Regions from separate parts of the Homo sapiens genome. Here region 1 is linked to region 2. The links come from fine-mapping of genetic effects on plasma protein levels. Region 2 holds a variant in brackets. A gene starts in the other region. All regions are shown on their reverse strands.

Region 1 (2,830 bases), not on the chromosome of region 2:
CTTTCTTGAGGAAGTGGGAGGCTGAGGCAGGAGGATTGCTTGAGACCAGGAGTTTGAGACCATATGGGGCAACATGGCAAGACCCCGTTTCTACAAAAATTTTAAGTATTAGCCAGGTGTGGTGGTGCACACCTATAGTCCCAGCTATTTGGGAGGCTGAGGCAGGAGGATCTCTTGAGTCTAGAAGTTTGCGACCAGCCTGGGCAACATAGTGAGACCCCGTCCCAAAGGAAAAAGAAAATTGCAAAGTAGAGAAGACATTTGAAAGAATCAAACACGGCCAGGTGCTGTGGCTCATGCCTGTAATCCCAGTACTTTAGGAGGCTGAGATGGGTGGATCACCTTTGCTCAGGAGTCCAGACAAGCCTGGGGAACATGGCAAAATCCCGTCTCTATCAAAAATACAAAAAATTAGCCAGGCCAAGTGGCACGCGCCTGTGGTCCTGTACTTGGGAGGCTGAGATGGGAGGCTCTCTTGAGTCTGGGAGGTGGACATTACAATGAGCTGAGATCATGCCACTGCACTCTAACCTGGGTGATAGAGTGAGACTCCATCTCAAAAACAAATAAAATAAAAATTCAAGGCAGGAATAAAACAGTAACTACATAATGAGCTCACATTTTAATAAAAGAGATATAACAAATGAACAAAAGTCCATTAAAATGTTAGGGAAAAAACCCAATAGGATGAGTTACTAACTAGAAGGGGAGAAGGGATTTGGAGTGGTTAGGAGAGCCCTTTCTGAGAAGATAAGCTGAGACCTGTGCCAAGAGGGAGGCAGCCATGCAAATACTGAGAGGAAGGAAAAAAACGAAGGGCCAGTGCAGAGATCTAGAGAGGAAAAGAACTTGTCTTGCTGGAGAAGCAGTCAAGGTAGCCAAGGAGAGTACTGAGAAGAGTACGTTGGAGTGAGTAGGTAGGGACTCTATGGAGTAGGGCCTTAAAGGCGATGATTAGGCCAGGCGCGGTGGCTCACACCTGTAATCCCAGCACTTTGGGAGGCCGAGGCGGGTGGATCACGGTCAGGAGTTCAAGACCAACCTGGCCAAGATGGTGAAACCACGTCTCTACTAAAAATACAAAAAAAATAAGCCGGGCCTGGTGGCAGTCGCCTGTAATCCCAGCTACTCGGGAGGCTGAGGCAGAGAATTGCTTGAACACGGGAGGCGGAGGTTGCAGTGAGCCGAGATCGAGCCACTGCACTCCAGCCTAGGCAACACAGCGAGACTCCGTCTCAAAAAAAAAAAAACAAAACAAACAAACAAAAAAAAAAACAAAGGCAGTGATTAGCAGTTCGGGTTTTGTTTCCACTTACACTAGCGAGAGCATCAGTAATGAACAAGGGGAAGAGTGAAGCCACTGACTCGCGAGGTGACTGTGGGCAAGTTCCTGAATCTTGCTAACACTCTTTAACCCCCTGGAAAACTGTTCGCTAATCGTCACATTAAACGGCTGCGAACGGGCCACGGTCAAGGCTTCGGGGCTGCAGCCGCGAGTTTACCTGTCCTCCAGGACCGATTCCATGGGCTCCACCCCGTCTGTGTCCACGGCGCGTAGCCGGTCGGCGAAGGCGATAGCTTTCTCCAGTCGCGCCACTGCCTCGCGGCTGCCGAAGTCCACAAGCGCTAGACGCTCCAGGTGCTCGATCACCGCAGCCGTGATCCGGCCACTGCCCTGGAGGAGGGATGAGGCGGGGAGTGTGGGTCACCGGCGCTCCGAAGTGCCTCCCGGCTTGCTCCGCCACCCGCCTAGATGGCCCTGGCCTTTACCTGAGGATCCGCCTTGGAGGTGAAGCCCTGGCGCCCGCCCAGAGGGGCCCGAAGGCCCAGCCACACCAACCGCGACCACATTTCTTCCTTCCTTGGCCCCCGCAGTGCGCCCGCGCGTAACGCCGAGCGACGCGCCTGAGAGTGATGACATCAGAGTGCGCCGTCGTCGCCGCCGCCACCACTGTCGCCATGAACAGTGTGGGGGAGGCATGCACGGACATGAAGCGCGAGTACGACCAGTGCTTCAATCGCTGGTTCGCCGAGAAATTTCTCAAGGGGGACAGCTCCGGGGACCCGTGCACCGACCTCTTCAAGCGCTACCAGCAGTGTGTTCAGGTGAGCCCTCCCGCCTCTGTTCCCAGGCCCTGCATTCTCGGCGCTGTGTCCCACCACACTCATCGTATTTTACGGGGATTGGGACTGGACTGGAAGGGTGGAGAAAAGTCGCAGTGAGGCCAGTGGCAGGAGCTCGCTCCCCTACCATCACCACCGAGGCCACTTGGGTGTCTCTCCGAATGACAAATATTGGGGCAGTGCTTTTCAAGAAGCACAGTCACATCCTTTGGTTCATTTGGTGTTCACCCTAAACTCGCAAGGTGGGCATAGTTACTCATATTTTATACATAAAAAACTAACACCCAGAAATAGGAAGTGATTAATCCGAGTTCACTAGCATCAGGTTTCCTTGGTTCTTTCGCAGGTGGTGCACTTTTCCACTATTACTGCTGGGGTCTGGGCGGGATTATACTTCAGAATTCAGACTGGAGGGTCACATTTTTTTGTTGTTATAAACCCTTCGTTAGCCTGTTTCTCTCTCTTGACCAGTCCCCGCAACTGCAGCCAGGAAATGTTTATTCTGGCCCAATGGATGTGGAACTGCTTTGAATTGTTAAGAACAGCACCGGGCAAAGCACTTCCAATAAGTTAACCCAACACATCCTCACAGCAATTCCCCGAGGTAGTTGCTGTCTTCATCCCATTTACAGTTAGTCACATAGCCAGTAAGTCCTGGAACCCAGATTTGAACCTAAGTCTTTCACTAACACAAAGTGATGATTAT
Region 2 (2,911 bases):
GCCTGGCTAATTTTTTGTATTTTTTAGTAGAGATGGGGTTTCACCGTGTTAGCCAGGATGGTTTCCATCTCCGGACCTCATGATCCGCCCATCTCGGCCTCCCAAAGTGCTAGGATTACAGGCGTGAGCCACCACGCCCAGCCAAAAGGAATTAACTTTCTCAGCAGAATACCATGTCCATCAATCTTCAGAATTGCTTAAGATTCATCTATGGTCTCAAGACTCTTCTAGCTCCTAAATTTTTTCTACCATGTGTCTCTCTCAAATACATTTATACATTTTTGCTCATCTATTCAGTTTTCAAATTGTTCATCCTGCCTTGGTGGGGAGGGATCTTCCTTTATCTGTATTACCTATACAAGGTCTCCAATATTCCTTATAGCAACCTTCTGAGTTCTTCCTGCCTCTGAACTTTGCACTATATCTCCTTATTCTAAAGCTCTCTACCCTTTCAGGCTCCAAAAACGTTTCAGGAAATGGGATTTGAATAATTACCCTGTGTTCGGTACAAATATGGTATCAAGAGTCAGTTTCAACCCTTCAGCCAACTGAAAAACAAAGATTTAAAATAAATAATTAGTAATTTTCAATCATTTATCCAACTCAAGAAACCAATTCTAAAGTTTCCTGAGTTCTTTAACAAAAAAAAGGAGTCATTCAAGAAAGCAAAATATTAAATTATGTAATAAGTAAGCTCTCCATCCTCCTGTCCCCTCACCCCAGCCTTCATCATGGTTCTCCCACTAAAAAATGGGGCAAATCCTATTTTAGCAAGTTACATAAAATACAGTTCAAAACCAAACAGAATTCCCATACAACAAAATCATCTTGATACTCTCTTGAAAGAGCAGTAATGAGATAACCTGACATTTAACAAGCAGGCTAAGTCATTTTACTCAGTTTTGCATGTACATTATCTATACATGGTATCTCTATCAAAAACAGTGCCCTGTACATAGTGGGCACTTGACTATATCTAATAGATTTTCTCCTTGAAAACATGAGAACATTTTAGAAAAATTTTTCTGTCAAGCCAATTTTTCAACAATTACAAAACTAAACCAAATTTCCGCAAATAGTTTGTTCTACCCAGGAGAAGCTTAGCTGTGTAACAGAGAACCAGTCAGAACAAAGATGTAATATAGTAATTAGAGTACTCACAAACAAAGCCTTATTTTCTAGAAACATAAGACATCAAAAAAGGCCACATGCAGAGAAAAAATATGGCTACTAGATAGGTTGTAAGATCTCTTTTGATTATATTTGGGGTATGTTCATCATTCAATCTACAAGATAAATTGAACCTATGAATAACTTCTAATGCGTTCTCTTACCTTATTCTCCCAAGAGATTTCTGTCCCTAGAGTATTGTCTGTGTTCCATTTCTGGGTGAAGGTAAGTCCATAGTTACAGACCTTATATTTGGTTTCTAGGTTGCCTGATGCTTTCCCT[G/C]TATCAGTGTAAGCATGACCAGAAGTAGAAAATTCCTGGTAAGCAAGAAAAAATAATTACTTTAAAATTAGCTCATCAAATAGAAAATATTCACTTTGGAAAGCAGTGTTCAATGTATCAAAAACAATACCATTTACTGCTTGCCACAGCCCTACTCTAGAGCAACTTCTTTCCTCCTTTCCCCTTGCTTTTCCAGTCCCTAAATATTTTAACCAGTTCTGCCAGGCGCAGTGGCTCATGCCTGTAATCCCAGCATGTTACGAGGCCAAGGCGGGTGGATCCCTTGAGTCCAGGAGCTCAAGACCAGCCTGCGCAACATGGCAAAACCCCATCTCTACAAAAAATACAAAAAATTAGCCAGGCATGATGGCACGTGACTGTAGTCCCAGCCTGAGCCCAGGAGGCAGAGGTTGCAGTGAGCCGAGATCATGCCACTTCACCCTAGCCTGGGCAACGGAGTGAGACAGCTCAATACCAGTTTCAGATCTTTCCATTACTCTACTTCTCTTATTAATATCTCTTGTTCCATATACTCTCTTACCAAATGGTAATCCTAAATTCTCTCCTTTAAAAAAGAAGTATCTTTACTGAAAACAAATGCCTTTACTAAAAAGACCAAAAATATTGTATCTTAAACATTTTACTTTCATGACCTAAAAAAAGATTATCAGTTCTCTGCTATATGTTTCAAACTATCAGTTAATTTCAAGGTCCTTAAAAATCCCAAAATACTGCCCTCCTCCTTTTTAATAGGGTCAACACTTTACTACTTCCTTTTAAAAATGTTTTTTTTTATTGTGGTAAATACATGTAACATACATTTTACCATTTTAATAATGTTTTAAGTGTACAGTGAAGTGGCATTAAGTACAGTCACACTGCTGTGAAAACTTTAATGCTTTTGTGTGCAAAACTGCAAAACTTCTGCTTAGACAATTTCAATATTTGAAAGTACTACCCATTTTTCAAAATAAAGTAGAATGCTATAATTTATCCTTCTTTCCCCCTTTCTATCCTGTCTACCTTTAAGAGTGCTTTCTATCAAACAGTTACTATGAATGAGACTCTGTCTCAAAAAAATAAAATAAAATAAAATACATCCTTTGCCCTAGTTCAGTGCCCTTTAAGTCATATGACAATAAGCAATTAGAAATGGACCTCCTTCTGGGGAAAGCAGACAGCACCTGTCACTGACAATCTATGAACTGTCAAGAAAAAACATTCTGATTGGTCCTGTTTTAGGGAGCATTTCTGAAATCCTGCCAACAGTAATGAGATGCTGCCAACCCTGACCAGTCTTTTTCACTGCCTGCAACATGAATCCTCTCCTTAACAAATGCCCTGTCCCCTAACTCTAGTTCTACAGGCAGATGAGACAACTGGGAAGTTATGTTCTGTTTATCAAACCACACAGAATGGTTTCAAAGAGAGTATCATGCTGCACATTTAGGGGAAGGCC

Which allele goes with the higher level. Alleles are on the strand shown, and positions count from the first base shown. The strength of an association depends on the size of the effect and on how common the allele is.
With allele C in place of G in region 2, the plasma level of the protein whose gene starts at base 1,948 in region 1 is lower (weak association).

The links. A credible set is the group of variants that fine-mapping cannot tell apart. PIP is the posterior inclusion probability: the model's chance that the variant is causal. The UK Biobank Pharma Proteomics Project read protein levels with antibody pairs (Olink). The fine-mapping took linkage between variants from a reference panel, not from the people measured, so its PIPs are less certain.
Region 1: it holds the start of TRIAP1, and the variant in region 2 is the best candidate, but not a certain one, in a credible set for the plasma level of the TRIAP1 protein (UK Biobank, PIP 0.82).

The regions. Positions count from the first base shown.
Region 1 is chr12:120,445,502-120,448,331 of GRCh38, reverse strand. It overlaps TRIAP1 (TP53 regulated inhibitor of apoptosis 1), which reads left to right and starts at 1,948. Exons shown (of 2, transcript NM_016399.3): 1 at 1,948-2,106. The coding sequence starts at 1,960. It overlaps GATC (glutamyl-tRNA amidotransferase subunit C), which reads right to left and starts at 1,888. Exons shown (of 4, transcript NM_176818.3): 1 at 1,771-1,888; 2 at 1,503-1,675. The coding sequence starts at 1,851. RefSeq lists enhancers at 1,073-1,918, 1,752-2,046, 1,644-2,193, 1,408-2,607, 1,919-2,766.
Region 2 is chr8:42,397,288-42,400,198 of GRCh38, reverse strand. It overlaps VDAC3 (voltage dependent anion channel 3), which reads right to left. Exons shown (of 10, transcript NM_005662.7): 5 at 1,335-1,487; 6 at 496-548. Among named protein-coding and RNA genes, the nearest start is that of VDAC3, 6.9 kb to the right of the region's middle. The variant G/C (reference allele first, on the strand shown) is at 1,453.